3 separate regions of the Homo sapiens genome follow, and regions 1 and 2 are each reported to be linked to region 3. The links are microRNA targets in miRTarBase. Many come from high-throughput screens and were not tested one by one. Region 3 holds a microRNA gene; each other region holds the end of a gene's coding sequence.

Region 1 (7,517 bases), not on the chromosome of region 3:
TTTGCTCAGATGGCAGCTCTATCCAAAAATTGTAGGGCGGGGGGAGGTTGACTTTTTGGTTCATTGCTGTGTATCCCCGATGCCAAGAACTATGCCCAATACAGGTAGGATCTCAAATATTTGTTGAATCAGTCATTTTTAATCAAAATATGGAAAAATGTGTCAGGCGTATGTGCACACGCACACCCTCCTCCCACACATTTATGGTTTGAAAAGCATCTTAATGACATTCACCTGGGGCTTTATCAGCTTATGTTGGTAAGTTCAGTATGGTCCAGGTAGTAATTTTTTTTTTTTCCCTTCAAAGTTTCAGAGTACTTCAAAGGACATTTAGTCTAGCTCTTGGTCATGATGTTCCCTTCTTGAACTGGATATCATGGAGTATCTTATATTAAAAATCCATAAAAGTGGTTTGAGGAGAGATTGGTAGATGAGGAAATAAAGACAATAAATACAGACAGCTCTTTCAAGAAATTAGGATATGAAGGAGAAGGAGAAAACCATAGTAAAAAGTTTGAAAGAGGTGGAACAAGCAATTTTTTTCTGTCTTTATGCATTTATGGATATATAAATAGTTTTATTTTGTTTTGTTTGTTTAGAAGTAATAGATGCTCAGATCAACAACAAATTTCGAAAAACAGAAACTATTGAAAAATAGAAAAGTAAAGACTGACCCATAATCCTACTGCCAGATAGAAATAATTTTGGTACATGTTTATTTATTCAGTAAGTTTTGGCTTATTCTGCTTTGTAAATGCAGAGCTGTGTCATCATGCTGATGGCTGACTAGAATCACATTATTTGATGTATATGGTTATTGTAGACCATACATTTATCCTTGACTATGTGTCTCCAAACTAAACTCTTGGAAAGGTCACTGCTAGACAATGTGAGATGGTCTATTTCCCCAAACTTAAGCAAATGCTAGGTATTATTCTTTTTAATTGTTTTAAATTTAAATTTTTTATTTTATCTATTCTTTTTAGAGACAGGGTCTTGCTCTTTTGCCCAGGCTGGAGTGCAGTGTTATGGTTGTAGCTTGTTGTAACCTCAAACTCCTGGGCTCAAGTGATCCTCCTGCCTTGCTAGGACTACAGTGCATATCACCACTCCCAGATAATTTGAAAAAAAAATTGTAGAGACAAGGTCTTGCTATGTTGCCCAAGCTGGTCTTGAATTCCTGGCCTCAAGTTTTCCTCCTGCCTCGGCCTCCCAAAGTGTTGGGATTATAGATGTGAGCCACTGCACTCAGCCAAAGATTCTTTTTAAATGTTTTGCGAATATGATAGGCAAATCTTCAATTACTAATAAGGTTTTGAAAATGTCTTCATATTCATTTGCTGTTTGTATTCAACAGAGTAACCATTTATGTTTTTAGGTCATTTTTCTAGCCAGGATCCTATATTTTTCTTATTTTAAAATATGTTTTATACATTAAGGGTATTGGCCCCTTTATTTATGTTGCAAATTTTCTTGTGCAAATACAACATGCATGACACTTTGCCATGAACTGGGGCTCTGGGAGATAAGCATGCAGTGAAGACCCGTAAGTGTGAACCACAAGGTACACTTGAGATGGTGCCAGTGGCTTCTCATTACTGCAGTGGAAGAACATAGATGGGAGAGTAGGTCAAAGTGAGTGATGTGACTCATAGGATTATTAACAATCTCTCTCTCTGTTTTTCTTGTCTCTTTTTAGTTTTCTTCAGCCTCCAAAGCCTCTGTCTTCACTCAGCACTCTGAGGGATGGAAATTGGAGAGATGGTTGCTACTAATGCAGTTTTATGTACCCTTGAAAAATGGGAAAGAAGTAAAAATGAGGGTTGTGTTACCTAGCTGGCTGGGTAGCAGTGGATGTTGGGATATTCTTTCCCTTTTGTGTTTTAATATATTTACTGCATTGTTTCTCAATGGACCAGTCACCAGAGACTAATTATTGCACTTAAATATTTGCCTGAGATACTGCAACATTCTCAAACCCATGGTTGCAGTATTGTGACACTTAGATCTAGGAAGTTTTTGTAGAACTGCTCTGTACCTGAATACTTTTTGAGAGAATTAAGATGTATCAATAATGCTTTGCCATATGAGTTTTTTAAAGTAACTTGTTCAATTTACTCACGTGTTCTAAACATCTTTCCATTACATGTTCTGTATTTTAATACATTGCATATTGACAACTAGGTTCTATAATGTATGCTTTGAAATTTACTTTTTTATAGTTTACAGGAATTTTATTTTTTGTGCCTATTTCTTTTTACACCTATGTGAACCACTATGGAACAACTTAAATTTTGTGCCATAAAAATATTTTTGTGGTAAGGTACTATTTTTTTAGCTCTAGGGATATATCAGCAAAAACACATCATGCAATTTGAGACACATAATTTTGTGTTGAATGAGCACAACATAATTTGAAGCATTGCAAGGAGATAACCAGACAGCAGAATTAAATGGTCCTGTCTTTTTCATTTTTAATTTATTGTCATACATGGGTTTCATATTTATAACGGCATCATGAGCTCATTGCACTTAATACCTGCAATGTTTGCTACTGTACCACAATTGATTTTCAATACTTTATTACGAAGGATGAAACTGTAATGTTTTATTAACAATGCTTCTGGAAATGAATGCATTTTAAAGCAAATAAATCTTTTTGATAGACCTTTTACAAAATCCATTTGCACTAATGAATGCTTTCTTATGGCATATAACTTAATATTTGTTACTGTGTACACTGCTGTTTTGGAATGTTCAGAAATAAAGACTCTATTTCAGCAATATCAGGTCATGCATGAATGTACAGCATAAACAGTGTAACTACACATGTGTTTCACTACAATTGTGAAAATGCTTATTGTTACTCTGTTCTTGTGCAGGGCATTTATATCTCAAGCAGGTAGACTTAGAATATTCACATTTGTAAAATTATTCTTCTTTTCCCAAGTACTCCTGATAAGAATTGTATGATTTTTCTTACATTAGTTTTAGTTAGGTAGTTTTACAGGGAGGTTTAGGTCCATTTAAAGAGGCCACTAAAACTCACGCAGCATGTTGCTGAGAAACACATTTACAGATGAACATTGTCAGTGGAGATTTTAATATTTTATAGGAGTTGAATTTGAAATACTTTCTCAGTATCAGTAAAATAGCAAGTACTATCCTTATTCTGCATTATATTTGATATATGTTGGAAAACTTTACTTGAAGGTACTGTGGGAAGTTTAGGCAAAGATTTTTAGGTTAGGTTTTGAAATGGAGTTCTACCTATAGTCATTAGAGGTTTTTAGTTTTTTTAAAGTGTACCTTTGTATGTAATTCTCTCTAGAACTAAAAGGAATGTTTGTTTAAATAACTTGCACTTTAAGTGGAATGTGAGCTAGAGGAGGTAAGATATGAAAAGGGAAGTAATATTTATTAAGCACCCCTTCAGTCAAAAGAACTGTGCAAGATATTTTATATACATTTGTCTAGGACTAACTTTCACCTACTATTATCACCATTTTAAAGATGAAGACACTAAGTCCCACAGAGGTGATTATTTGTCAGTTTTTGCATCACTATAAAGGAATACCTGAGACTGGGTAATTTATGAAGAAAAGAGGTTTAATTGGCTCATAGTTCTGCAGGGTGTACAGGAAGCGTGGTGCCAGCATCTGCTTGGCTTCTGGTGAGGCCTCAGAAAGCTCACAGTCATGGCGGAAGGCAAAGGGGGAGCTGGTGCATCACATGGTGAGAGTGAGAGCAAGGGGTGGGGCGGGGTTTCTACACTTTTTAAAAAAACAACAAGATCTTGTGTGAACTCAGAACAAGAGCTCACTTATCACCCAGGGGATGGCACTAAGCCGTTCATGAGGGATCTGCCCCCATGATCCAATCACCTTCCACCAGGCCCCACCTCCAACACTGGGGATCACATTTCAACATGAGATTTGGAGCAGACAGATATACAAACCATATCGTTCTACCCCGGCCCCCAAGTCTCATGCCCTCCTTGGATTGCAAAATGTAATCTTCTCTTTCCAACAGTCCCCCAAAGTTTTAATTCATTCCAACATCAAGTCCAAAGTCCTAAGTCTGATGTGAAACTCATCTCCTTCCACCTATGAGCCTGTATTATGAAAACAAGTTATTTACTTCCAAGATAATGGTGGTACAGGCATTGGGCAAACATTTCCATTCCAAAAGGGAGAAATTGGCCAAAAGAAAGGGGCAACAGGCCACATACAGGTCTGAAACCCAGCATGGTAGTCATTAAATCTTAAAGCTCCAAAATAATTTCCTTTGACCCCATGTCCTCCATTCAGGACACACTGGTGCAAGGGGTGGGCTCCCAAGGCCTTGGGCAGCTCTGCCTCTGTGGTTTTACTGGGTGCAGCTCATGTGGCTGCCCTCATGGGCTGGAGTTGAGTGCTTGCAGCTTTTGCAGGCTCAGGATGTAAACTGCCAGTGGCTTTACCATTCTGGGGTATGAAGGGCGGCAACCCCCTTCCCACAGCTCCACTAGGCCATCCCCAGTGGCAATTCTGCAGGGGGGCCTCCAACTCCACATTTGCTCTTAGCACTGCCCTGGTAGAGGCTGCTGTGAGGGCTCTGCCTCTGTGGCAGGTTTCTGCCTGGCCACCCAGGCTTTCTGATGCATCCACTGAAATCTAGGTGAAAGCTGCCATGCCTCCTTCACTCTTGCATTCTGTGTACTTTCAGACTTAACACCATGTGGAAGCCACCAAGGCTCATGACTTGCCCTCTAAAGAGGCAGCCCAAGGTGTGCCTGTGGCCCTTTGAGCCGAGGCTGGGCCCAGAGTGGCTGGGATGCAGGGAACGATACCCTGAGACTGCACAGCGCAGTGGGGCCCTGGGCCTGGCCCCTTAAACCATTCTTCCCCCATAGGCCTCCTGAGCCTGTGATGCATTGGGCTGCCTCAGAGATTTCTGAAATACATTTGAGGCCTTTTCCCTATTCTCTTCGCTCTTTTTCAGTCATGCTGATCTCTCAAGTGGTTACTCCACAGGCCACTTGGATTCCTTCTCTACCACAGGGCCAGGCTGTGACTTTTCCAATTTTTTTGTTTTGTTTTGTTTTGTTTTATACAGAGTCTTGCTCTGTTGTCCAGGCTAGAGTGCAGTGGCATGATCTCAGCTCACTGCAACCTCCACCTCCTGGGTTCAAGTGATTGTCCTGCCTTAGCCTCCAGAGTAGAGTAGCTGGGACTACAGACATTCACCACCACACTGGCTAATTTTGTATTTTTAGTAGAGACAGGGTTTTGCCATGTTGGCCAGGCTATTCTCAAACTCCTGACTTCAGGTTGATCTGCCTACCTCAGCCTCCCAAAGTGCTGGGATTACAAGGTGTGAGCCACTGCACCCGGCTGACTTTTCCAAATTTTACTCTCTGCTTCCCTTTTAAATATATATTCTGACTTTTAAGTCATCTCTTTGCTTCTGTATCTGATTATAGGCTGTTAGAAGCAGCCACAGCACTTCTTGAATGTTTTGCTGCTTAGAAACTTCTGCCAGATACCCTAAGTCATCTTAAGTTCAACCTTCCACAGATTCCTAGGACATCGGCACAATGCAGCAAGCTCTTTGCTAAGGAGCGACAAGGGGGACCTTTACTCCAATTCCCAATAAGTTCCTCATTTGCATTTGAGGCCTCTTCAGCCTGGCCTTCACTGTCCATATCTCTTGTCAGCATTTTAGTCATAACCATTCCAATCAGTTTCTAAGAAGTCCCAAACTTTTTCTCATCTTCCTGTCGTTAGCCCTCCAAACTCTTCTAACCTCTGTTACCCTGTTCTAAAGCCACTTCCACATCTTCAGTTATCTTTATAGCAATGCCCTACTCCTCAGTACTAATTTTCTGTGTTTATTTTTTTGCATTGCTGTAAAGAAATACCTGAGGCTGGGTAATTTATAAAGAAAAGAGGTTTAACTGGCCCACAGTTCTGCAGAGTGTACAGGAAGCATGGTGCCAACATTTGCTCAGCTTCCCAAGAGGAGTCAGGAAGTTTACAATAACGGCAGAAGGCAAATGGGGAAGTCAGTGTATCACACGGTGGGAGGGAACAAGAGAGAGAGGGCGGAGGTGCCAGGCTCTTTAGAGCTCTCATGCGGACATATTACCCTGGGGAGGACACCAAGCCATTCAAGAGGGAATCTGTCCCATGAGCCACAAACCTCCCACTAACCCACTTTCGACACTGGGGATTACATTTCAACATGAGATTTGGAGGGGACAAAATATCCAAACCATATTAGTGACATTAGTCTTGGGTAAACATTTAGCAATGTTTAAATAGTGCAGCTTACCTTTGAATCCAGGTTTATCTGGCTCAAAAGTCTTATTTTTCCCCACAACTATGCTCTCTTCCAATGAACACAGGTAGCTGGTATTTTTTTTAATCACTTTTTATTCTGCAGAGAAAAAGGATTCGATTCGTTCTCCATTCAAATGTTTGATTTATATTCAAAAAAGTCTGCTTAGCCCTTGCAATAAAATAACAAAGATCCCTTCATCTTGGCTTTTACATTCTTGTTGGGGAGAAACCATAAACAGGTAAGAAAATCACTGCAGGTTAGGTCATAAGTTCTGTGGGGGAAAAGAGGAGATCAAGACAAGAGGAGTTAAGAGAAAATAGGGGTGGGGAGAAATCATACTATTAAAAGGGTCACCTCAGTAGATATTAATATAGGAGTTAAATTATTTAGGCAGTTAGTGAGGGTACAGGAGTCTTTGGTAAGGTTTTCCTTTAATGAAAAGGCAGCCCCCAAATCATTTCTTTTCTAACAAAAAAAAAGCAGCCTGAAAAATCAAGCTGCAAACATAGATAAGCAACTGGAAGCTTGCATACGTGAATGCCGGCAGCCGTGCCAGAAGCATCCAACATGGAGGTTTTCTCTTCCCTTTTCCTTGTCACCACATGTGCAGGTGTCATGGCGCTGGCCAGGTAGAAACCCCATCTGTATAATAAAAGATTAGAGTGGGATGGCCAGCGTCTTCGAGGGCTATGTAAATGTCACACCTGGTCCAACCAATCCCCTGGGCCTTATGTAAATCAGATACCGCCTCCTCGAGCCCCTCTATAAAACCAACCGCATCCCGCTGCTAACAGGGAGATCCATTCGGAATCCCCCTCCCTCTACATGGGGCAGCTTTTCTTTTGTTTCTTTCACCTATTAAACTTTCCGCTCTTAAACCCACACCTTGTGGTCTTCATTTTTCTTAGTGCGAGACAACGAACCTCGGGTGTTTCCCCAGACAAACGATGCCACTTCAATATCGTTAAGGAGCTAGTATGAGCAAAGGCTTGACGATGGAGAGTTAGTCCTGAAGATGTTTCACAACCTTTTTCATCTGGAGTTCTACAGAACATGAAATAGTTGTAGTGACTATTTTCACAGTTCTTCCCAGGAGGGTTTATAACTATTATTATTTTAAATGCACAGGAAATAATTTAATACATTATAGATAGCGGATGTCCCAGGGCAGTGGTTTCAAAGTGTAATTCTAA
Region 2 (7,517 bases), not on the chromosome of region 3:
CCTAAACAAGATGCAATAATGCCAATTATATTCTAGTTCTGATAATGTATAGACCTTTAATGTCTGTTTGCTGTTTTTTTTGTTTTTAATACATATATGTTATTTAAATATATATATTTATTTAAATGTATTAGGCAAATTCAATGAAGCTTTTAAAAAGAAAATACCTGTACAAAGCTGATGTGAATGATGTAGTATATAATCTTGGTGTTAGCATTTAACAAATGTTGAGAATTTTTTATTGTGACCATATTTTAAAGAAATCACTAGATCAAATATTTGCAAAGTAAAATAAATGAATTAAGGTAGAAAATAAAAAGAAGAGTTCAAAAGAAGATAGGCTCAGTGTGAGGTGGAATGGTCAAATAAAGATTTGTGAAAGCAGCAGTAGTTTCTGATGGCAGAGTATGGCCTTTCAGATGCCGCTTAATCAGTAGCTGCAGGAGCATGTTTTAAATTGGTTCAGGAAATGACAGCTGGATGTCAAATCAAAGAAGAACTTAGGAGTGGGGGGCTTTGACCAACACAAATATTATGTTAGCTCCAATTCACAGAAGCTCTTTATAGACGCAAGTGCTTTGAGTGCCTTAAATGACAAAGTTTTTGTTTAGTTCCATATTTTACATTGTATGCTGTAAAATACAAATATAGTACTTTGTATGCACCTTTTGAAACTTTAAAAATTATTATCATGAACATGTAACCTGATTAAATTCAACGTGGATTTATTTTTCTATTCACTCCTTCATGGTGTCTTTGTATAAGCCTTTGAGGAACTTCTTTTCATTGATGACACTAAGGAGAAAAAAATGTCACTTTAATTATCTCTTTTTTTCTGTTTGTTTGTTCCCTTTCTTGGTTGAAGGTGAAAGTCTGGTTCCAAAACAGGCGGATGAAGTGGAAGAGGGTAAAGGGTGGACAGCAAGGAGCTGCGGCTCGGGAAAAGGAACTGGTGAATGTGAAAAAGGGAACACTTCTCCCATCAGAGCTGTCGGGAATTGGTGCAGCCACCCTCCAGCAAACAGGGGACTCTATAGCAAATGAAGACAGTCACGACAGTGACCACAGCTCAGAGCATGCGCACTTATGATATAAACAGAGGACCAGCTCCATTCTCAGGAAAGAAATGTTGTGATGGCAAGCCTTACCCAAATATCGTTTACACAGAGAGATGACTATGGCAGTGATGTTTAATATTATTAAATCCAGGCATTTCGAATCTGTTTTTCATGATTTATAGAGGGTTTACACAAAGTGCCACTTATTAAAGAGCTTCCACAGTGAAGATGGAGAAGGTGAACTTGCTTTGAATATTCCAGATGTGTTTGGTCGTGCGTATGGCAGTGAGCAGGTATGTGTTTGCTTTTGCTTGCACTGAAAATTAAATTGCTATCAAGAGCAAACTATGAACGGTTTTTTATTCAAGATGTCTCCAGAGTGAAGATGCCGAGGATGAACTTGCATTGAACATTCCAGATGTGTGAGATCATGTGTATTACAGTGGGCAGGTATTTGCTTTTGCTTGCACTGAAAATTAAATTGCTATCAAGAATAAACCATGAAACATTTTATCCTGAACAGCCACAGTGCCTGAATTCACTCAAGTGGATAAAAAGTGTATTTTAACTCTGTATATATTACCCTTAAGTCATTTTCCTGTCTTCACTAATTTAGCAATGCATTCATATTAGCTGATGAAAATAGGCACTCACAATGACAACCAGAGCCAGTTTCTTGTCTTTTTTATACATTTTGTCATCCCAGAGACAATCAGTATGTGCTTACCTGTGTTCAAGTAGAGAAAAATACAGTAGAGTCTGATAGGACATATTCTTGTACCACAGACAAAACAAATCTTATGTTGCATTTACTATCAACTGCTGCTAATACGTTATTATAAAACTTACCTAGCTCCTGAATTCTTCCTATCTTATAGCTTAAAACAATTAGGATCATAGGCAAATCAGTTACCTTGCAGAAAGAGCTTTGTATGACAGACATTGTCTTATTTTATTTCTGTAAAATATTAGCTGTATGAATATGATTTAATTAACAAGAAAACATTTCTTCCTGATTGACAACAGTGTTAGACAAGGTGCAAAGCGAAACTGGTTGCTCAAGTTGATAGAAAACAAAATTCTGAATATCTTCAAATTAAATTCGGTAAAAACACATTATTTTTTCATATGTGATGTATTCATGCAGAACAACTATCTTTGTATTTTGTTTTTAAAATGTGTTTAATAAATGATCCTTTGTAAATAACTTTGGTCTCCCTACATTAATTTTCTTAATTTTTATAGATTTCAATATCAATGATTAACAAAGTCTCAAATCTATCTGCACTTGTGCAAATCCAGATGATTATAATTAGTGGATTATTTACATTTTTTCATTTCTGAATTTTTTTATTATGGCAGGAAAAAAATAAATCCTTGTGTAATCAAAGGGCGCCTAAGAATGGGCATATATTAAGCTATTTCTCTAATTTGAAGAATACAGTGAATGGATTTTTTTGTGTGTTTTATGAAGCCACAGATAAAAGTAGGAAAAAAGTATTAAATAATAGTATTCACCACAGTGAGGAAAATAAAATAGTCATACATTTTTAAAGTTATGTCTGATATATGTAAGTTAATCCAACAGTGGTTTTATAGTCTGAATATGCAGAGTCTCTGATGTGAAATATAAGCTAAAGAAGCTAATCAGAGTCCTCAGTTCTAATGGGACTAATGCAAGAAGTAAAGGATGCTATTAACATAATGTATTTTGCATCATGCATGATTGCACACGCATGGGGTGCCTTAGTCCTACTTATAGCTTTATCACATTGTTTTTCATTTGTTTCATATTCTAAGCAGAAATGCTTGGAAACATTGCCAGCCTTCCTCCCCTGCCTCAATCCGAAACAAATACAGAAAAACAATCAGTAAAAATTTCCAAAAACCCATCAGTTAATTGATTACACTTGCTTTAGAATGATCAGACTGACAAAAATTAATTTGATATATTTTAACTTAATCTAGCGTGATATATAGAGAGTATCCCAGAAATAAATAATTTTTTTGTATCACATTTTCCTTTCATGTAATACATTTTACCTCAGTAGTTGTCAGTATTTTAAAATTAACTGAGAATAGACCATTCGAATTGAGGTCTCCCAGGCATGAAACAGACACTTTTCCATTAATCACCTGAATTAATACAAAGTCTGCTTGTGCTGATGACATCTACTTGGGTGGACTGACTTTCTTACTGTAGAAGAGGATTTAAATTCAAAACATCTTGACAAATTAGTGAAGTGGGAAGATATGAATCAAATTGAGTTCAATAGGGACAAAGTGGAGGATAATTCATTTGGGCAGGAAAATAATTTCCAGAAATAAGAGAAAAGGACCCCTTAGAAGTAGCTAAAAGGAGAGCTAATGGTTGTAGCCAAATAGACGTAAGAATTCCAATGTAGTAAGAAAATGAAATAGGAAAAAGGGATTCCGAATAGATATAACATTCGGGAAATGGGAGGTTTTTGTATCATGGCCATATCTTTATTAGAGAATTGTAAGCAATCCTGAAATGAAATTTGATCCAGAGAACACAAAGTGGTAGGAAAGGCCACATGGCTGACTGAAAAGAGACATCACTTTCTTTATGATGAATTAAAATGATCTGCCTGCCGCATAAGACACCTGACACATTATCACATTGTCAACACACTGACAAACAGGGAAGCCAGAGTAATTTTTATTAGTGGAACTTGCCATCTTTTTAAAGTATTTCAGTATCCTCCTGTCTTCAAACTGATGCATAGGTTAGCTACATTATACCCCAATATCCTTTTGGAATTAAAATTCTTTGAGGAAAATTAAGATATTCTCATGAACTATCTGGGTTTAATTCACTCCAAAGGTGCCAAAAATCTGAAAGAACTCTACTTGTTTTTAATCTACACTGGGTTCCTGGCATGCCATGGTATCTTATTGCATAATGCCCTTTTCGTGTAATTCTATCTCAGACCCTGTGGCTCTGTGGAAATTCATAACAGCATGAAAGCACCTTTCTCTGAAAATAGTATGAAATCATGGTTAGGATGATTTTTTTTTCAGTAGGATTCAGAAGGATGAACACTACAAAGTTTTTCCAAAGACTGATCCACATATTTTTAACTCATTATTCACACGACCCCAATTACTTCCTACTTCCCATATTTACCATCTGCTGTCAGACTATATTTTCCTCTTCAGAAACCATACATAATACCTGAGTTTGTCATTTTGTTTTTTTAATTTGAAATAAATGCATTTAAAATAATCCCAATCACATTTTTAATATGCTTATGAATGCCATTACATGTAATAAATGTGGGAATCACTTGTGAAATTCAATAAAAGCTTTTCTCAGACTAGTAAACTAAGATCAGAGGCCAACTTGGCCGGGCGCGGTGACTCACGCCTGTAATCCCAGCACTTTGGGAGGTCGAGGCGGGCGGATCACGAGGTCAGGAGATCGAGACCATCCTGGCTAACACGGTGAAACCCCGTCTCTACTAAAAATACAAAAACGAAAAAAAATTAGCTGGGCGCGGTAGAGGGCGCCTGTAGTCCCAGCTACTCGGGAGGCTGAGGCAGGAGAATGGCGCGAACCTGGGAGGCGGAGCTTGTAGTGAGCCGAGATCGCGCCACTGCACTCCAGCCAGGGGGACAGAGCGAGACTCCGTCTCAAAAAAAAAAAAAAGATTAGAGGCCAACTTAAAACAAAGTAAGTTATAAAAATAAATATTTAGTAAGTTATAAAAATAAATATTTTATATTTCCAATGCTACTCGTTTTTGAGAACATTTCTTAAATTCCTGGCGTACTGATGACAGCAGATGCTAATTTTCGCCTGACAGAAGTTTTGAGAAACTATACAGTTAAAATCAGTCTCAAGAACAGAGTATCCTGGTAGTGACTGAAAAGATTTAAAGAAAGTATTTTTCACTTTAATTTCTAAATACACTGAGGCTGGTGACTTTTAAGAAGCAGCCATTTATGCCATGACCTATTTTCTAATAAAATGCTTTTAAAATAATTCAGTTCATATTTGAGGTGACTAGTATTTAGACTATAATATAATATTTAAAATATGAACAACAAATACTTACCTGGCATAGTTCTTTGAACTATTTGGGGGAATAACTGTATTTTCTTGGCAGCTCTCTTTGTTGCATTCTTTCAGTAAAAAGCAATCTAGAAAGAAAAATAAATTTCAGCTACAAACATTCCAAATCTTACAAGCGTGGAATACGCAGGATTGATCTGCAAATACTGTCATAAAAGTGGCTTTTTTGGTTATGTTTTTATATCTCCTGCCTAAAGCTGGTCAGGGTAATGAATAACAATCCTCATGGGCACCTCAACATTTCTGCTTTCAACTCTTGCAAAATGTTGCTAGAAGTCGTAGACAAAGGAACAAAAATGGCTCCAGAAAACAGGATTGCTACACCAAACTCTAAGAACCTATAAAAATATGCGGCTCAAAATTTAAATATGTTTTTTTCTTTAAGTAATTCTCTGATATCATGTATTTTTACAATACTCTTATCTTCACATTTACGATGGTTAAATACATTGAAAGTATATTTAAGACTAAAAATTTTTTTATGAATTATTTTTCCCCTTAATAGCTAAGTTTTATTCAAATGCAGCTTAAAACTGTGGTTTGAAAAATTCCAGAAAACTTTTGATTGCATCACAATGTATTCAGCCAGCTCAGTAATCCCCCATTAAAATATTGTTTACTTTGGTTACAGATGGTTTTCAGAAACAGCTCCCAAAATAGAATGAATTTGCAAATACAAATTATTGTCACATTCATTTCATGGAAGAGATGATACAGTGATTTGAGGACATAGTAATATCAAGTTTAGGCTGTACTTTGTATTTCTGTACTTCAAATAGTGATTCACTGAAATAGACATGTATTTTTTTAAATTAAAGAGTAATCAGATGCTTTGGGAACAATCAATTGTCCTATAATTAAGTATAGGCTTTGTTTCTGCATATGTGTAATAACTATAGTTGAAAACATTAAAAATTTTCTTTTCCTCAATACATATTAATTTTAAAAACAATGATTAGAAAATACTTGTCATTAAGGATAGGTAGTTTTTTTTAAAATTACCACTGCTGGCTTTGTTTTTCTTTAAAGAAAGGCGGTTTATTCTACCTTTTCCTGAATATACTACTGTCAATAAAGGAAAACAATCAGTCAAGATCCTTCTAATTTTCCTATTTGATGAAATGTTGGACTCAAACTGTTATTTAGGGTCAAGCTATTAATTCAATTGGATTATTTCTTTGGCTTTTATTTTTCTAGGGCAGAGTTTAATTATTTTCTTTGGACTCATCGACAGTGAAATACAGTAATTTTTCATGATCACAGATATATATGGTGTAAGCAGGTGTTTAGGTATTTAAAAGCAGCAAAAAATGTTGAAAGAAAAGTGGATGCTAAACTGATAGAGAACTTAAAAATACTTCTTGAATTGTTCAATAGCAAAAAAAGAAATTGGCTCATGAAATTGCACGTTCTATAAAAGTATCACCAACTCAACTTCTTTTAGAAGAACGTGTGAAATAAGCCTTTCAAAGTTGCCTCTGACTACCACATTTTTGGGCAAATTTTTGCTTACTGGAGGCATGTGATTGTAGCCAGTGTCAAAGAATGATGATTGGGCAAAATCTTATCATTTGTATCTGAAATAAAATATTTGCTAAATGTTATGAAATAAAAATCAAAGGAGATATATCTTGTTTGAATTCAATTTAACAACAGACCACAAATCGGATTGGTTAAATGAAGAGATGTTCAGTAGTGACCATATTCTTCTCTGGAAACCTCATATAGATTTAGGTGTCCTTGCTAACAACATATTACACTTGATCTTAGCCAAAAGGCTGAGAAGCAATGCTAACATACATTAAATCATGTTCAGATATTTCCTTATGATAAACGCTTTTTTAAAAAAGAACATATAAGACAAACCTTTTTATTCACATGATACATAGTTTTAGAAAATATATATCTGTATAAATGTATATTTTTAAATAATTTTGGAAATATACCATATATGCTGCTCTGTAAGCTAAGGTGTTTCTTTGCATAATAATAAAATATAAATATATTTAATAGCTGAACAGTATTTCTTTTTATGGATCTATGATATGCTATTTAATAATCCCTTACTATTGGATATTTTTTTCTCCAAGTTTCCCTTTAATAACATTGAAGTGTTTTTTTACATAATTCTCTGTAAAATTTAATTTTTCCCATAAAGGGATTTTGTAGAAATTGTATTATTGGGACAAGAAAGTATGTTTATTATTAGGACTTTAAATATACATTATCAATTTTGTATTGCAAATTTACACTCATTCCAATACCTATTTCTCCATAAATAGGATAATTTTAATTATTAGAATTTTTAAAAATTATTTGCAATCTGATGATAAAGCATATTTTAATTTGTATTTGTTCAA
Region 3 (7,517 bases):
CTATTTGTAGGGAAAAGGACTTGAGTGCAGGGAAAACTCAAATCCCAGGCCCTGGGAAATAGTAAAATAATCAAAGGGTTTTCCATTTCACTCCACTTGTTAGTTTATCTTGGCACTGAAGAGGCACTTTCGAGTATCTAACTTTTGCCATTGGGTGGGGTGGGGACAGCTGCTCGCGGAACAGCCCCTAGTCGGCTGCTTCCAGAGTAAGCAGTCTTTATGGGCTTTCTCTGAGGCCCAGTCACTGCTCCTGGGACCCAGTCCCCTGGAGGGGAGGTGGAAAATCAGTGCTACGGGGCCAGTCTTTCCCGTGGCTGCCACCAGCGAATGAAACTTTTGTATGATACATAAAGTGCTTGAGTCTATTTTTAATAAAAAGGGAAAAAGCAACTTGAGGCAACCTGTCCTCTGACTTTCTTTCCCTGTGCATGTACCCATAAACTGTCCCCGTCACACACACACACCCCCACCCACCCGGGCCTGTCCCTTTATACCACTAGGGGGCAGCAGTTGCCCTGTCTATGGCAAGACTACTGCTTGAGCTTTTACCGGGGAATAAGCGTTCAGGTGAAGTTTTGCCTTAGTAAGAGGGGTGGGTTTTGTTAGCTACTCGGCGAGAGCATCCAAAACCGCTTGTGTCTGCTGGCACCCCTGACAGTAAGTCCATTTTGCCTAGATCCAGGATCGGGCTCTGAAAGAGGCTCATCTCAGAATAAGGATTTTCTTGAGTCCCGTGGCTTTTCAGCCTGGTTCTGTAATGCTCTGGTCAGTTCATGGGCACACTTAAGGCTAAAAGGAAAATCAGTCAGCCAAAGTGCTGCTCTGGCAGTTGATGGGAAGTGAAACAAAATAGCTCAAAAATTAGGCCGGGCGCGATGGCTCACGCCTGCAGTTCCAGCACTTTGAGAGGCCGAGGCTGGTGGATCACCTGATGTCAGGAGTTTGAGACCAGCCTGACCAACATGGCAAAACCCCGTCTCTACTAAAAATTCAAAAATTAGCCAGGCATGATGGCACGTGCCTGTAATCCCAGCTACTTGGGAGGCTGAGGCAGGAGAATCACTTGAACCCAGGAGGCAGAGGTTGCAGTGAGCCAAGATCGTGCTGCTGCACTCCAGCCTGGCGACAGGGCAAGACTCCGTCTCAAAAAAAAAAAAAAAAAAAAAAAAAAAAAGCTCAAAATCGCAACATCAATGCCACCATATGACCCAAGGGACATTTTATTGGCAGTGGTATGAAATCCCTACTGTTGTTGGGTGCCCAACAGTTACAGGGGAGACCATATACATCATAAAGATCATTTTTTGGTAAGCTATAATATTCTTTCCAGATTCATTCATTAATATTCCAAATATTTATAAAGCATCTATTACTTGCCAGGCATTGTGTTAAGCACTAGATGTTAAGCACATGGTGAAGATAAGGCAGCTGTGACCTGACTTCCTGGAGCTTTCTGTCCAGTAGGAGATGCAATAACCAGGAAATCCCAGTAGAAGATGATAATAAGGGATCTAAGCAGGGACGTGGAGGAAGCTTGGGAGCTCATAGGAAAGGAACTCAGCTTAGATGTAAGGAGTCAAGGAAGGCTTCACAAAAGCGATGACTACGATGGCATTTGAAAGATAAGAAGTTAGGTAGGCAAAGGCAAAAGTGATGGAAGTATTTCAGACAGAGTATGTGTCAAGTAACTTAAGTTTAGTTAATTGAAGGAAATAAAAGTTGCTTGTGGGCTGAAAGCAGTGGCTCACGCCTTAATTCCAGCACTTTAGGAAGCCAAGGCTGGAGGCTTGCTTGAGGCCAAACTTTGAGGTTAGCCTGGGCAATATAGCAAGATCTTGTCTCAAAAAAAAAAAAGCCATACCTGCACCTGTAGTCTCGACTACTCAGGAGGCTGAGCAGGAGGATCACTTGAGCCCAGGAGGCTGAGGTTGCAGTGAGCCATGATCACGCCACTGCACTCCAGCCTGGGCTGGAGCAAAACTTTGTCTCCTTAAAAAGTGGGTGAGAGGACATGAAAGGAAAGAGAAGCAGGAGCCATAAACTATTTAGGGAATCTAGATTTAATCCCAATGGTATTAGGGAAATATGGGAAAATTATTGTTTTTTAGAGTGGAGTGGCAGTATCAAATGGCTATTTGTGCCCAGACAAGAGGCTCAAATAGAAGTTTTAATAGACTGGAGAAAGTAAGGAACATATGGTAGGGTGCGGTGGCTCACACCCGTAATCCCAGCACTTTGGGAGGCTGAGGTGGGCGATCACTTGAGGCCAAGAGTTTCAGACCAGCTTGGACAACAAAAATTAGCCAGGCATGGTGGTGCACGCCTGTAATCCCAGCTACTCAGGAGGTTGAGGCAGGAGAATCACTTGAACCTGGTAGGCAGAGGTTGCAGTGGGCCGAGATCGCGCCACTGCACTCCAGCCTGGGCGACAGTGAGATTCTGTCTTAAAAAAAAAAAAAAAAGGGAAATAAAGCTAACTGTACTATCTCAAATACTGTTGTTGTGATCAGAATGGAGAGGCTGTCTGGGCAGGAGAAAGGAGGACTAGAACTGGAAGGCACAGAAGTAAAAGGGCAAGGGAAAAAGGCAAGCCATGGAGAGATGTCCAACATCCCTCAACTAAGGCCTCAGGGGAGTCTGACCCATCTTTCAGTTTCTACATGCCTCATGATGCCAAGATCCCTCTCAGGGTCCAGCAGAGGACCTCAAAACCCTATTCCTCTTGGACCCATTTCTTGCACCAAAGTTTAGGGAAGATTTCTCAAGTCCCAAACTCTGCTGTTGAAAACCAGGCACAAACTAGCTGCCTTCTTCACTTGATCTTAGCCAAAAGACCAGGAATACTAGCTGCCTTCTTAAAGAAGCTCCCCAAATATTCCTCTCATTCAATTTATTTTAACAAGTTTTAATTAAGCCTACTAGGCACTGTGGGAGACAGAGAAGTAAATGGCTGAGTCATTGCTCTCAAATTTTTCTTTCTTTTTTTTTTTTTTTGAGATGGAGTCTCGCTCTGTTGCCCAGGCTGGAGTGCAGTGGCGCAATCTCGGCTCACTTCAACTTCTGCCTCCAAGATTCATTCAAGAGTCTCCTGCCTCAGCCACCCAAGTAGCTGAGACTACAGGCGTGCATTACCACGCCTGGCTAATTTTTGTATTTTTAGTAGAGACGAGGTTTCACCATGTTGGCCAGGCTGGTCTTGAACCCCTGACCTCAGGTGATCCGCCCGCCTCGGCCTCCCAAAGTGTTGGGATTACAGGCGTGAGCCACCGCACCCGGCCTCAATTTCCTTGTAATTGGTCCTGGGAGAATCATTCTGTGGGTTGATTCAAGGGATCCTATTAATCTTTAAGATTAAGTCATGGGCAACGCTGTCCAAATCTTGGATGCCCAGACAGGTGTGCCCTCAAGCAGCATTACCATCAAACACCCCGTGACCAAGAGGGAGTGGTGCTGAGAAAGGTAAGTGGATTCAGGGAAGGAGTGAGGTCTTTCCATGCCTCATGAGCCAGGGAAGGAGCTGTAGGTATGGGATGCCAGCAGCACACAGGTCCTTTTCTTTGGGGAGCAATCCTCTCGAGTTAACCCCCTTTCCTTTCTGGTGCATTCCTTTTTTTCTCAAGGAGGCCTACTCTGTACCTAATAGTGATTCTCCTAATCTTTTTCCACTCACTCTCCATTCCGGGCTGAGTCTGGGAATGCTTATCCTTCTTAGCCTAAGGAGTTGCCACCACTTCTGGTCCTTAAAGGTTTGAGGCTTTGGAAGATATCCTCATACAACCAGCAGATGGCATCAAAACCTTCCACCCCTCAGCTCAGGAAATCTCCCAGTTTGAAGAACCTATTCAGATCTCTCCAGATGGGTCTACAAAAAGATGAGTGAGCTGTCAAGACTTAACACAGGGTTGTATCTAGGCTTTGCAACCTAAGAGCTACACAATCTTAGCCAAACTGTTTAAACCTTTCTGACCCTCAGTTTTTCATCCATAAAATGGGGCTGTTACCTCCCAGAAGTTATTAGGTTTCACAGTAACGGAGGCAGTGTCTATCACAAGCACTGCATACAGAAGTAGTTCCATAAATGAGAGCTATTAGTATAACTAACAAGTGAGGCTACCCAGATTCCCACCAGGGTAGCTGACTGGTGCCCAGATGGGAGAGGAATTGCAATGCTGAGGAGGCAGCCAGCGCTGGGTAGCACTACACGGCCAATGCCCTTTTAACATTGCACTGCTAGTGACAGGTGCAGACAGTAGCACAATGTGAAAAGAGCTCTGGCCAGCAGCAGAGGCATGCCGGCCCTGCCTCCTCACTCCTTCTCCCAGTCCCTGGCCCACTCAGCTCACGGGCTCCCTCTGCCCCTTCTTTGCTTCAATACAGCTTTTTTCCCTTTTATTCCATTCTTAGTGTTCATTCTATTTTTTCACCACTCTTCCTTTTGCCGCCTTCTTCACCAACCCCCTGACCCCCAGCACAGAGACCACCTTTTTCTTGGAGGTTTTGGCATGGGAGGACAGGACCCACTAAAGCAGCTGCAGGGATACTTCGGGCTTGATGCTCAGTCCTCAAAGAAAACGGCTATTAGCAATCCCCAAAGTCTGGAGGTCACTCGTATGAGGCTGTGTTCATCTGGATTTGCATTTCCGCTAGCTTACCTTCTAGAGAGGAGCTTGCTGCCCAAGACTACAGAACCCTCTACTCTTCTCTAAGTTTCCATCTCCTTTTAAATTTAGATAAAGCAGAGCTCTAGGCCTCAAGGCAACACTCTCAGATGACCTTCCAGGACCAGAGAGGTGGGAGCCTGTAGTCACAGCTCCCCACGCAGTAGAGAGAAGCTTCCAGGCGGGGAGGTGAAAGCTGCTGGTGAAGCCCCACCCCTGCATCTCCTTTTGGAGGTCCTGAAAGCACTTTGCAGATTCAGCATTAAAATGGTGAGGGTGATTCGCTCACAGTTACTGAGAGTTAGGGATAGGCTTTCACTGGCAGTGGGATTCACATCTGAGTTATTTCCTGTCTTATCCAGGGACCCTTGGTTGGGGAGTCTTCAAGCTCATCCTAGCACTTCCCCATCCTATCCAACCCTAAGGGGGCTTAAATACAGGACAAACAGTCCCCGGAAGATTAACACCCAAAGCCAGAAAGCTGCCCTGGAAGGACACCTGGATATCTGGAGGCTCAGACCCAGGCAGGCTCTATTGTGGCACATTCCAGCTAGGGCCACAGCCCCGGAGCCCAGCTCCAGTTCTGACCCAGTGAACTTTGGGCAGCCCAGAGAAACAGAGGCTGGAGGGTGATTCCTCCAGTGCCCCGATCAACGAAGGGGAGATGCCTTCTTCCCTAATCCACAGCCACCGTAAGGAATAGAGGACAGAATTCCAGTTGGGAGCTCTTCCTCTGGGCTTCCCTCTAGCCTCGTCCCACCCCCTCAGGAAGCAGGAGACGTTCCCTCCCGCTCTCCCCGGCAGAGTTTGTTCCCGTAATCTGCAAACATGGGGCCCTGCCCTACAGTTTTAATGGGCGGAAACCAAGACCCCTCGAGGGTCAGTGACCTCTCTGCTCTGGGGTTGGGCAAACCAGGCCCAGCTGGGAACTGGATCACACCAACAGGGGGCAGAGGGGCAAAGATAAGGCTGCACAGCAAGCTTCAGGGAGGCCAGGGGAAGATTCTTCCCCAAGAAGTTTCCAGGTCTCTCCTTAGGGAGTGCAGGGAGAAAGGGCCAAGAGCCCCTCAGCTCTCACACACCCAACTCATTCCTGAGGAGCAGGCCCAGCGACTCACCAGCCAGCAGGACCCCTCCCCCACCTTGGGCCCAGGAGCCAGCCCCCAGCTCCTTCCAGAAGCGAGTGTAGAGACCGAGGAGGAAATGGGGGAGGGGAGGCCCCGGCTCAAGTTCTCTCCTCTCCCCCTCCTCATTGGCCACCATCTTCCGGCCCCTGCCCCCAGAGCAGCAGGGGATGGGGCCCAGCCTGTGAAAGGGAGAGAAAGGGCAGGTGGGGGGTTAGCTGGAGCAGCAGGGGCAGGGGGCTGGCCCCAACTGTCTCCTCCCACCCCCTCCTCGCAGCCATGGCGACGGGAGGAGGAGACCAGGAGGGTCCTGAAAGCCATGTTCTGTGAATGGGATGAGAGAGGCAGCTGGGAAGTGGGGGGTGAGGGGCGCTCTCCTTCAACACCCAACTGTGCTCCCCCCGAACACACACACCTCGAGGCTGGACCACACAGGCGCACGTACACACCACACACACACACACACACACACACAAACTCTCAGCCATACTTGCTGCACAACTCAGCCCTCATTACACACCCAAACAACAAGAACTGGAGTGTGAGCGCACGCCCCCCACACACACACATCCCCGCACCCCTCAACACCCCACAACTATCAGCTCGAAAACCAGCCTCACACCCCCACACCGCCCCTGGCTCACCCTACAACTTCTGGAGGTGCAGAACTCCCTGCCCTGCTCCAGCCCTTCGGCCCCCGGTCCCCCTCGGAACACTCCACGCCCTCGCACACAACCCAGGTGGAGACAGATGGCCCAGCTCGGCCGTGCCCAGCGGAGCCCCCCATCCCTACCCCACCACGCCCCCCACTGGAAAATGACAGTGAGGCCACCTCAGAAAGACACGCCTGGTGCTTCCCAGTTACAGTGTTTCCAAAGGAAAAAATAGAAAAGATGCCCACGAGTGGAGAATGAGGAGGGAAAAAGGAAGACGAGAGAAAGAGCCCAGACCGTCCCCCTCCCTTCCCCAAGAGAGAATAAAACCGAAAATCGGTGTCGTTACCCTTCGGGAAGCTCTCGATACCTACACATTGCTCTTCGTTAGGATCCTCTGCCTGCCACCTCCTTCTTCCCGGGCTCTTTCTCTGCCCTTCCCTCCCTCTTGGCTCCCCTCCCTGGCCTCGCTCCCCCTCGCTCACGCCCTCTCGCACCCCGCCAGCCCCTCTCCCGGGCCGGGCTTGGATCCCCAGCGGCCGCCCCGCCACCCGCCGGCCGGGACCGAGGTTGCGAGGCCGGTGGGCCGCGGAGACCCTCTCCTCTGCCGATCTCGCTCTTCCCCCCTCGCCCCCTTTCTCCTTCCACACTCCCTGCCGTCCATCTTGAATACTTGGGATTCTTGAATGGAGTGAGCAGGATCCGCTCCCCCAGGCTCCCATTGGCTGTGGGTTAACCCTTTTGAAACGAGATCCTCCCTCCCATTGGCTGCCAGGCTCCCCTCTTCTCCCCCAACCCCCATCCCCTCCGCCTCCCAACAGTCCGCGAGGTCAGGGCGCTCCCGGAGCCCCCTCCCCTGGCTTCTCACCTCAACAACCCCCGCACCAGGACGCCCCTCTCCCCGCTCTTTCCGTCACGCCCCGCACAGGGCTGCAGGTGAAGGCAGATCCAGTTCCCGCCAAATGCGGCCCCAAGGTGGGGCTGGCAGAAACCCTGTTCCCAGATGCCCCTCGTGCTGGATTTGGAGACCTTGGAAGATACAAGGGGTGCAATTTCCTGCCCGTCTCCAACCCCTCCTTGAC

What was found. Region 3 holds the annotated microRNA hsa-miR-130a-3p (CAGUGCAAUGUUAAAAGGGCAU, at 4,209-4,230, opposite strand). A microRNA usually pairs through its seed, bases 2 to 8, with sites in the 3' UTR of a target mRNA and lowers its output. Matches are read on the target gene's strand: a 7mer-m8 pairs with bases 2 to 8, a 7mer-A1 pairs with bases 2 to 7 and ends in A, and an 8mer does both.
Region 1: the mRNA of SLAIN1 is a reported target of hsa-miR-130a-3p. Seed matches in the 3' UTR shown: 7mer-m8 at 1,937-1,943, 7mer-m8 at 2,527-2,533 and 8mer at 2,685-2,692.
Region 2: miRTarBase lists MEOX2 as a target of hsa-miR-130a-3p. Seed matches in the 3' UTR shown: 7mer-m8 at 1,370-1,376 and 7mer-m8 at 1,523-1,529.

Annotation. Positions count from the first base shown.
Region 1 is chr13:77,761,446-77,768,962 of GRCh38, forward strand. It overlaps SLAIN1 (SLAIN motif family member 1), which reads left to right. Exons shown (of 7, transcript NM_001242868.2): 7 at 1,700-2,784. The coding sequence ends at 1,775. Among named protein-coding and RNA genes, the nearest start is that of EDNRB-AS1, 54 kb to the right of the region's middle.
Region 2 is chr7:15,605,960-15,613,476 of GRCh38, reverse strand. MEOX2 (mesenchyme homeobox 2) reads left to right here. Exons shown (of 3, transcript NM_005924.5): 3 at 866-2,265. The coding sequence ends at 1,090. Among named protein-coding and RNA genes, the nearest start is that of AGMO, 48 kb to the right of the region's middle.
Region 3 is chr11:57,637,965-57,645,481 of GRCh38, reverse strand. MIR130A (microRNA 130a) reads right to left here and starts at 4,284; the gene lies at 4,196-4,284. It overlaps YPEL4 (yippee like 4), which reads left to right. Exons shown (of 5, transcript NM_145008.3): 5 at 1-395. MIR130AHG (MIR130A host gene) reads right to left here and starts at 7,106. Exons shown (of 2, transcript NR_186232.1): 1 at 6,810-7,106. RefSeq lists enhancers at 1,713-2,212, 5,487-6,066 and silencers at 6,913-6,972, 6,993-7,182.